Regions from separate parts of the Homo sapiens genome. Here region 1 is linked to region 2. The links come from fine-mapping of genetic effects on gene expression. A gene starts in region 2. The other region holds a variant in brackets. All regions are shown on one strand. Distances are between the middles of the regions.

Evidence for each region. PIP is the estimated chance that this variant, and not a neighbour inherited with it, causes the effect.
Region 1: its variant is fine-mapped to the expression of OSBPL2 in blood mononuclear cells (TOPMed, PIP 0.93).

What each region holds. Positions count from the first base shown.
Region 1 is chr20:62,270,845-62,275,844 of GRCh38, forward strand. It overlaps OSBPL2 (oxysterol binding protein like 2), which reads left to right. Exons shown (of 14, transcript NM_144498.4): 5 at 1,281-1,415; 6 at 2,465-2,562. Among named protein-coding and RNA genes, the nearest start is that of ADRM1, 30 kb to the right of the region's middle. The variant C/T (reference allele first, on the strand shown) is at 2,935.
Region 2 is chr20:62,235,650-62,241,165 of GRCh38, forward strand. It overlaps OSBPL2 (oxysterol binding protein like 2), which reads left to right and starts at 2,872. Exons shown (of 14, transcript NM_144498.4): 1 at 2,872-2,948. It overlaps LOC105369209 (a long non-coding RNA gene), which reads left to right. Exons shown (of 4, transcript NR_160555.1): 4 at 1-652. RefSeq lists a silencer at 2,600-2,999 and an enhancer at 3,697-4,621.

The sequences.
Region 1 (5,000 bases), 35 kb after region 2:
CTTGTCCCTCTCTGGGTCCTCTCCTTGTCCCTCTCTGGCCTCTCTGGGTCCTCTCCTTGTCCCTCTCTGGCCTCTCTGGGTCCTCTCCTTGTCCCTCTCTGGGTCCTCTCCTTGTCCCTCTCTGGCCTCTCTGGGTCCTCTCCTTGTCCCTCTCTGGCCTCTCTGGGTCCTTTCCTTGTCCCTTTCTGGTCTCTCTGGTCCTCTCCTTCTCTCCTTGTCCCTCTCCCTCTGCCTCTGCTTTGCCCACCCCAGACCCTGCTCCTTCCTGAAGAGCCTGCCCTGAGGTGACAGCTGTGTTTCCCTGGAATGCCTACTGCCCTTGGGATCCCTTTCCTGGAAGCCCGGTGGGAAGAGTGGCCCCTGTGGGCACTCGTCCCCTTGGCACCTTCCCAGCTTCCCCCACTAAGCCATGCGCCCTGCCGTCCAGGGCCTGGGAGCAGACACCTGAGACTCCTTTGCCAACTCGGAAGGCCTTAGGGGAAAGCCACATGGAGCCATGTTATGGGAGGCCTCATTTGCCAGGTTCAGGTGTGTCCGAGGCATCCTGGAGGGACGGGAAGCCAGGGACTATTTTTAACGGCGTGGGTGGCTCTGCCTGGGACCACTACTCTGTTTTTTTGTTTTTGAGACGGAGTCTGGCTCTGTCTCCCAGGCTGGAGGGCAATAGCATAATATCGGCTCACCGCAACCTTCACCTCCTGGGTTCAAGCGATTCTCCTGCCTCAGCCTCCCGAGTAGCTGGGATTACAGGTGTGCGCCACCATGCACAGCTAATTTTTGAATTTTTAGTATAGACAGGGTTTCGCTGTGTTGGCCAGACTGGTCTTGAACTCCTGACCTCAAGGGATCCACCCGCCTCGGCCTCCCAGGGTGCTTGGATTTTAGGTGTGAGCCACCGTGCCCAGCCTGGGACCACTACTCTGGAAGTGGGGTGGAGAAGATGTGGAGTAGGGGAGGGGGCGCAGGTGGGCCCAAGAGCCCTTGTGGCAGTCTCTGTGTCTGGAATGGGGCGGTGGGCTGGGGAGGCAGAGAGGATTCAGGGGTGTCATGCCAGAGACCTCTGCAGGCTCAGCACAGATTGTGTGTCAGGTCTGATGGCAGCTGAGGCTCACAGGGCAGGGCCGATGGGGCAGGGAGTGGCTCACCCATGGGGGGTTTGAAGATCCGGTTCAACCCCAGAGGCTGCGGCTCCATGAAGGGATGCTCAGAGCAGGGGCATCGGGCAGCCCAGCGGTGTCAGGAAGGCAGCAGTAACCAGCGAGTCTTCCCCATCTTTCCAGGAGCTGTCCAAGATCACGATGCCAATCGCCTTCAACGAGCCTCTGAGCTTCTTGCAGCGGATCACGGAGTACATGGAGCACGTGTACCTCATCCACAGGGCCTCCTGCCAGCCCCAGCCCCTGGAGAGGATGCAGGTGGGCCTTAGGGGTGCCAGGCAGGAGTTTGTCATGAAAGTGATGCCCCTTGCATGTCTGGCCACACAGTCTTGGGGCCCCAGGCATCTGTGAGGACTCGCACAGCTCCCCCCAGTGTTCAGTGCCATCCTGCCTGGCGGTCGTGGCATTTGTCCTGTCACCACAGGTGTGTGATGACAGAACTTGCCGGAAATGCCATTGAGCTCTCAGTGGCCCCAAGAGCTCCCTGCTGCCGCCTCCTGCCGGGAGACTCCGCCTCTTGGAGCTGAAGGTGGCGGTGGGCTCTGCCCTTGGGCTTCTCTTGGGTCCTGTTGCACCACCGCACCCCATGTGTGTGCATGTGTGTGACTGTGGGCTGGGCACGCACGGTGGCTCATGCCTGTAATCCCAACACTTCGGGAGGCTGAGGTGGATGAATTGCTCCTGGAGGTTGAGACCAGCTGAGGCAACACAGTGAGACCGCATCTCTACAAAAATTTTTTAAAACTTAGCCAGGTGCAGTGTTGCATGCCTGCAATGCCAGCTACTTGGGAGGCTGATGAGAGAGGATCGCTTGTGCCCAGGAGCTAGAGGCTACAGTGAGCCACGATTACGCCACTGCACTCCAGCCTGGGTGACAGAGTGAGACCCTGTGTCTAAAAAATAACAAAATACAAGTGTGTGACTGTGGGTGCACATAACGTGTGCACGTGTGTGCGCATGCCTCTGTGAATGAGTGCTTGGGGTGTGTGTGTTGAGTGTGTGGCCTTGTGTGTGCATATCAGACGGAGTGGCTGACATTGCTGCAGCATCTGCCAGAAGGGCCTGGCTCCGGGGGTGGAAGGCAGCACCCAGTTCCTTCTTTCTGTGCTGTCGGGGGAGTGGCGGGTGATGAAGGGCATTCCCTGGAAGTCCTATAATCTCAGACACACTGCTCGGGGAAAACTGAAAACGCACACGGAACAAATAGTGACAGAAACCAGGTGCCCACCGCCCTCCACAAGAGGCCATCTTCTCCAGCGCGTTTCCTAACTGAAGCTGTGCCTGTCCCCCCCGTGGATTATTTACAGTCTGTGGCTGCTTTTGCTGTTTCGGCTGTGGCTTCCCAGTGGGAGAGGACCGGCAAACCATTTAATCCACTCTTGGGAGAAACGTATGAATTAATCAGGTAAGGGGGGAAAGGCCCATCATAAATATCTTGTAAATGGAATTCCTTGGATGACAGATAAGTTTGATTCTTTCACTAGCATTGATTCCTCTGCTCTGAGAATAAACTGTTTGAATTAAGAGCTCACGAAAGCGTTTGGATGCTGTAGGCGAGATGTTTCACACACACGGGGTGTTGTGCTAGCGTGCCACGGCGTCTGAGTGAGTGTAAAGCGCTGGCAATGAGATATTTTAGTGTGTTCGACTCAAGCGTGGAGATAGCGCGCACTGTAGACGCTTCCGTGTGTGTGTGCGACGTCTGTGAAATGTGTAGGATTGTTGTGAGCTTCACCGAAAATGGAAATAGGTACTAATGAGCAAAACTAGGCTGTTT[C/T]ACTAAAGCATTTAGTGAACGCTATTGAAAAAGCAGGTAAATCCAAACACAGGAATGATTGCAAAGAGGAGCTTCACTCCCAAGGCCACGTTTGCCACCACAGCCTCCCCAGAGTTTTAGGAAGGGTCAGACGGCTCTGGCCAAGGGAGAGTTAACCAGACCACGCCTCATCTCCAGACATCCCTGAAACTTCTTCCTATGGAACTTTCTTCTAGGCAGCGTTGCCATCCCTTCCTAGAGTCTCCCCAGCTTCCCTCCTGTCTCTGGTGGCCCTCACCTCACAGACGTGAGACTGACTCCAAGTCCTAGAACTCTGACCCCAGAGGTCCAGCCGGGCCCCAGATCCGTTGTTTGTGGCTGGGCCTCTGGAAGGACTGGTTGGGGTTCTCTTCACCCACCTGGTTGCCCTGGGGACTGCTGTGGTTATTCACAGAATCATCCTGGGATTCTGCCCAGGTGACAGTGCCCACCCACACCAACAAATGAAGTCAAAAGCAGGCCAGACCATGGCATGTATGTGGCAGTGTGGTAATTCCTCAGCCATTGAGCAGCCTGGCTGGGGCTCCGGGGAGCTGTGGATGAGAGGGATGTGGGTGGCTTCCTTCAGGGCCGTTTGGTGATGTCTAAAATGATTTTTATTCCACTGCCCGTGGACCCCGTCATTCTCTTGTAGATGCATGCAGGTGCCCATGGGCAGATGTGTAGGGAGAGTCAGCAGAGCACAGTTCAGCTGCTGTCTCTGTGACAGGGCTAAGCTGTGGTTCTGAAGGAGGGAGGGGCAGGGCACTCTCGCTGCACCCTTCAGTCTTCCGACTGTCGAGGTAGCCCAGCACACAGAGCTCACTCTGGGAAGAAGGAGCTTGCTGGTGGGACACCCTTCACTCTTCTGACTGTCAGTGGAGCCCAGCACACAGAGCTCGCTCCGCCTGCCTGGGGAGAAGGAGCTGGAGGGGCGTGGGTGGTTATCTAGACAAGTCTGCTGTGCAGAATGCAAGCTGTTTGCCACAGGCTGCTGGGCTGCACGCCTCCCTGCCCAGGAACAGAGTGCAGACGGGAGGGAAGGCGGGCTCCTTTATCATCTTGTTTTATTATTTTTCTGTGAAAAAGGGAGTTGAGCCAAAACAATTAGCCTCTTATTTGGATTCTGGGTTAGTTGAGATTCTGTTGGGTTATTTTATTATGAAGTCTGTTTGTTTTTTTAATTACGAGAGAGTGCTCTTTATAGAAAATGTGTAACATTGAGAAAGGTAGAAAAGATGAATCAGGCATAATCCCATACAAGACAATAGCTGGCTGGGCTCACGCCTGGAATACCTGCAACTCAGGAGGCGAGGCAGGAGCATCACTTGAGCCCAGGAGTTCAGTTACAGTGACCGTGCCACTGAACTCTAACCTGGACTACAGAGCCAGACCGTGTCTCTTTAAAAAAAATGAGAGGAACTGTCAGCATTTTGTTAGACTTTCTTTTGTGTGTGTTTCAAAATATGATAATTTAATTTGTATCCCTTTTTAACATGTCATAATTTTCCTGTGACATTAAAAACTTTTTCTAAATTAGAGTGTTTCATCGATTCTAAGACGCCTTGTTCACGTGGCAGCACTTCTACATGTCAGTTTCTTGTTCCTTTTTTTTTTTTTGAGACGAGGTCTCACTCTGTCGCCCAGGCTGAAGTTCAGTGACATGATCACGGCTCACTGTAGCCTCGACCTCCTGCCTTAACCTCCTGGATATGATCACAGCTCACTGTAGCCTCGACCTCCTGGGCTCAAGTTATCTTCCCACCTCAGCCTCCCAAGTAGCTGGAACTACAGGCGTGCGCCACCATGCCCAGCTAATTTTTGTATTTTCAGTAGAGACAGGGTTTTGCTGTGTTGCCCAGGCTGCTCTTGAACTCCTGAGCTCAAGTGATCTGCCTCCCTCAGCCTCCCAAAGTGCTAGGATTACAGGTGTGAGCCTCTGTGCCCAGTCCAAGTCATAGTTTCATTTGCAGCATTTTTTTCTTTCTTTCATAAAATAATGGTGTGCAGTGCAATGAATGGCATCTTGGGTTCCAAGAAGTGCAGTT
Region 2 (5,516 bases):
TTGGCTAAGAGGACAGAGGGAGGATCCTACAAATTCTGTCAGGAAGCAGAAATTTGGTCTGAGAGCAGTGAAGGTGGGAGCAGACACCCCCCAAATCACCTGCAGGATGAGCATTTCTCAGGCTCTAGAGAGCATGTGTGGGACACAGCCGCCAGCCCACCTGGTGCGGGGGTCCAGCAGCCACAGCCATGGGAACTCCTGGGCCTGTTGTTCGTGTGCGGATCCTGGTCCGGGAGCCTGGATGCGGCTCTGCCTTGCCGACAAGCTCCTGGGCCAGGCCTGGTCCACCAGACCTCCCTATGCTTGGAGTGCCTGCTTGTTGTGCCTGGAGCTGTGCTGGGCCCTTCCTCATTGCAGGGCTGGGGGAGTCACTTAACCTGTCTGGGGCTCAGTCTTCTCATCTGTAAAGTGGGAATGATGGCACCTGGTACCCACTTGATTGGCTGTTGCAAACATGAAACCAGATGGGCCTGTAAATCACAGGGCACTCGGCCGCCATCACCATCATCATCATCAACATCATCATCCTCATCATCATGGCCCCAGCTCATCCATCTTTGTTGCCTTCTCCACCCCCATCTTCCATCCTTGGAGAACTGTGCCTCTTGAATTGGCCTCGTGACCTAGTAAAGATCATAACAAAGACGCCTAAGTTGGTCTCAAGGCACCCTCCTTACTACCCACCAACTGAGGGAGGATTCTCGCCTAGTCCCAGCAACTGGCCCCGGGGAGGAAGTACCCTTCCCAGTCCTGGCACGTCTCCAGCAGTGCTGGCTGACGGCAGACTACCCTTGAAGCTCAGTTACTGCATTTGTGGAGAGGGGTGAAACCCCTGCTCCAGCCCAGGGGCCATCTGAGATCACACCCCCAACCCCAAGGCCAGGGTGGATCTCCCTGCTTGGCCCTGGGGTGGTCCCTGGGCAGATGAGAGGGTCCTTCTGCCTGAGCCTCTGAGGCTGCCCTCACTGCAGAGCTCGTGGTCAAGGGGTGGGTGGGCAGGTTGGATCCCCTCAAGGGCACAGGGGTTAGAGTCTTAGAGACTTAGGGTGAGGGACATGGAGAGTGATGGGTTTCTGGGACCCTGAGCTGGCCCTGGCAAGGCCCACAGGGAAAGCTGTGGAGCGCAGTCATCTCCGTGGCAACTGGCCTCATCGTCCTTGTCCTGGCTTGGGGGCCGCACGCCTTCCCTTCCCTTTCACCGGCTGGAGTCGCTTTCTTCAGAGGTAACCATGGCAACCCCTTTGTTTCTGAGGCCTGCCCGCCCTCCTCCCCGTTCTCTCTTCAGGAGAGGCTCAGCCAGCTCCTTCCTGGTCCCGGCACGTCTCTAGTGGCGCCGACTGACAGTGGCCCACCAGTGAGTGGGGCCAGCCCCTGGGGTGGGGGAGAACGGCCCTGCTGGGCCCAGAGATGTGGCCTGGGCCCCACCCCTGCCACAGAGGCCACGTTCATTGGCTCACTCATGCCCTGAAATTTATAGAGAGTACCCACGTCTGCCACGGGGCCACAGATGGGGCAAAGGCCTGTCCCTGCCTCCATGGCCCTGCTAGGGGCAGCCTGGAAGTGGGGAGACAAGGCCTGAGGAGGGGGTGCAGAGGCCCAACGGGGGCTGGCTTTGCTGCAGGACGCACTGCGGGGTCACGGGTCATCTGCCAGAGCTCTCAAGGCCACAGGAAGCCCAGGACTCTTGGCTTTACCTCAAATGGGCTGAAGCAGAAACAAGCATGTGGTTCACGTAACTGAAAAGTCAAGGAAAGGACCTGCTGAGGTGCAGCAGGGTCCACGTGACCCGGCCGTGGTTGCTCCGGCTTTCCTCTGGGCTGGCTTCATTCTCGTGCAGCCCTGTTCTCGGGTAGTGAGATGTGGAAGACTGGCCCCTTCCCTCTCTCACCTAACCCAGCTCTGGAGAGGTCTGTGGGCAGATGGGAGAGTCATTTGACTTCAGCCTCCCCTCCGGTCTGAACTCTGACCCTACAGCAAAAGTCCCAGGACTGAGCCTCTTTGGCTAGAACTGGGTCACAGGCTGACCCCTAAACCAACTGCTGTGACTATGTAGCCAGCCTGGTTTATGCCACTCCACTCACCTCAAACCAGACCCATGACTTCAATGAGATGTTGACAGGGGAACCCTGGTTTGCAGATGAAACTGAGTGATCACAGACTCAGAGAGGTTAATTAATTTGTCCAAATCCACACAGCTGGTAAAGAATGCAAGCTCCAGGTCTGATTCCAGAACTTCTGGGCTTAACCCTGGAGCCACTGTAGGTCAGTGGGAGTCCAAAGGGTTTTAAGTATGGTGGTGAAACGGTCGGGGATGCAGCTGGAGGGGTAAATTGGCGCTGGATTTTGGTTGGCGGTGAATGGCATGCAAAGGAGGTGGACGATATTCAGGATTTGGTAGGACAGTGGAAGCAGCTACGCCCCAGCTATCGCACGGTCCCCAGCATTTGTAGGAAAAAGCCCCCAGGGCTTTGGGTAGCCTCGCAGGCCCGCACTGCCGCCAGGACGCAGTGCACCTGAGGGCGGAGCACCCACGCCCCGGGCCACCTGACTCACTGTTTGTCAACTCTGCTCTCTGCAGCCACGCCCTTTCCTCCTTGCCTCCCTCCCCTTTTGGCTCAGGGGCGGCATAACCCCGCCTCTCTCCTGCTGTGACTGGCTGTCCTTGCCGTCACTCCGCTGCGTGGGCGGGGCTCTGAGGGGGCACAGGTAGAGGCCCTTCGCGAAGGGATTAGCATAGTCCCACCCCCCGGCGCGAGCCTCGGGCCGGGCGCTGATTGGGCAGGCAGCGGCCGACGCGGCGGCGCCGGGCGCAGCGAGTGGCGGGCGCGGGCTGTCAGTCGGCGAGGCGGCGGGCCGCACTTCCGCCTCGGTGTCAGTGGGTCGCGGGCCTACGGGGCGGGGGCGGGGCGGCAGTGAGCTCGGCCGGCAACCGAGGGACCCGCGTCCAGGTGAGTGGCCCCCGCCGCCGCCACGCGAAGGCCCGGGACCCCGGCGAGCTGCGGGGCCTGGGCCGCGGGCTGGGGCTGGAGCCGGGGCGGGGAGGGGAGGGCGGGCCGGGCAGGACCCGGGTCCGCAGGCCGCCTCCAGCCCCGGCCCCGGCCCCGGCCTCGACCCCCACTGGGAGGCGCGCCCGGCCTAGGCCGCAGCCTGGCGCCCCGGGGAAACTTTGGGAGGAAAGTTCCGGCCGGGCGTGGGGCCTGGGCCTGGGTCCCGCGGCCCCCGCACCCTTCCCCCTGCGGTCGCCCGGCAACTGCGATCCCGGGACCCCCGGCCCGGCCCCCCCGAGATCCCCAGCCCCCCTGCTGCCCCGCTGAGCAGGAAGTGGGGACGGGCGCACCTGCTCGCGGCCTCGCCCTCTCTCACCACCTCACCGGGAACAGGGAAGGATTTCGTGCGCATTTAGGGCGATCCTGTAGGTGAGGAGGGCGAGTTCCGCCGGGAAGAAGGGCAGGGAGACGCAGTCCCACTCCGACCCTGGCCTTCTTGTCCCGCAGGCCTGTGTGCACGTCGTCCCGGGGAGGGTGCCCGCGAGCCCTTGTCCGTTCCCCTGGGCTCTGTTTTTGTTTTTAATTTATAAATCTTAGCAGACTACACACGGTTGAGAACTTGCTACCTAAAACCTATCTTTGGTAATGTAATTTTAAGAGGTTCCTTCTTTCGCCAGTTATATTTTGGTACTCAGAAGAATACGTCTTTAGACTTTCCAAGTTTATAAGCCCAGACCAAGACTGTTAGGTCGTCACAGCACCTCAGCCTCCCCGCTTCATGGGAGGACCGGCGACGAGGCAGTGGGTGTCGGGGTGTTGCAGGCTCTCCTGGGGTGAGGGTCACCTCCCAGGGGCGTTTCTATCTGAACCGTCCTCTAGGACAGGCCCTGGCCTAGCCTGGCTCCGGCAGCTTTGGGATGACTGCCCGGAACACCTGGAGAAGGGGTCCCATTCGGTTTGGTTGGATAGACGTTTCTCGAATGCCTGCTGTGGGCCTGGCTGGGTGCTGTGCGGCCTTCCCACCAGCTGGATGTGTGGTGAGGACAGCGGAGAGTTGAGGAGCCCGGAACTGGTGCAGGGGCCACATGCTGGGAAGCCACGGCCGTCCCTGCTGCCCTTCCTAACTCGTGCCCATGGCCTCTTTTCTGGCTGTCAGCCTCAACTCCTTCATCCGGACATGTAGCACTTTGCTGATAAGAGAAGCAAACGAGATCATTTTCTTGTTTTATGTTTTGAGATGGAGTCTCGCTTTGTTGCCCAGGCTGGAGTGCAGTGGTGCGATCTTGACTCACTGCCACCTCCGTCTCCCGGCTTCAAGCCATTCTCCTGCCTTAGCCTCCCATCTAGCTGGGACCACAGGCGCCGGCCACCACGCCCGCCTAATTTTTTTATTTTTAGTAGAGATGGGGTTTTACCATGTTGGCCAGGCTGGTCTCGAACTCCTAACCTCAAGGGATCCGCCTGCCTCAGCCTCCCAAAGTGCTAGGATTCCAGGTGCGAGCCACCGCGCCCTGCCATGAAATCATTTTCTACCACAGTCTCTGACACCTAGTGCGCACCCCGGAATGCCAGTTACCTTCCCCTTGTTGAGGACAGGAACTTTGTCGGTGGCACTTCCTCCCTGCCCAGCCCAGTGCCTGCCACAGTGTCGTCTTTTAGAATGTGGCAATGAGTGAGTGAGTGACTGAGTCTCCCTCATAGAATTTACCCTGTTTTCTTCATGTGTCCATCTATTAATGACAGCTCTTACCCCAGCAGACGATAATATTTAATAATGATTGTTCCAGGACTGTTACGAGCATGTCGTATTCACTTTCTTTGTGTGATCTTCACAACAGTCCACTGGGCAGGTACTGACATTATCCTTAGTTCATTCATGAGGAAGCTAAGGAACAGAGAGGTTAAGTAACTTACCTAAACCACACAGCAGTAAATTATGAAATATGGATTTGAACCCAGGCTCCAGGGTTCACACTCTTAAACACTACCCTGTACTGCCTTTTAATATCAAGATTTTCATTTAACATTTTCGTTTAGAATATTCTAATCATGCTGCATTACTCTGTGTCAGAATTTCGGGATTTTGCTACATATAGAACTAATAGACTTTCTTTTTTGTGAGCCTGAGTGTTTACAAAGCCATTTCATTTTTTCTGAAATAAAGTAATTTACCGTTTGACCATTCAGGATTTTGCCAGAATACCTTCCCTGCCACCCAGCTCCTTTGTTACTGGCAGATTCAGTGGTGGTCTCTGTGTGAAGAGGGAGGACTGAGGGGCATGGGTGCTGACAGGCGTACAGTCCAGACTCTGAGGTCTCCGTTCTGAGTTCAGTTCCAGGGGACTTCACACACTGCCTTAGAGTACACACGTAGGACATTTTTCTTCCACGCCTCGAGTGCGTTGAGAGGGTCAGACTCTGCTGTGTTCCACATGTTAATGAGAGGTGCTGTTTGAATGTGAAAAAAATGCCACTTGACTTTCATCCCAGTGTCTCTCCTCTGTGCCGTCCAGGAGATGCCAGCAGATG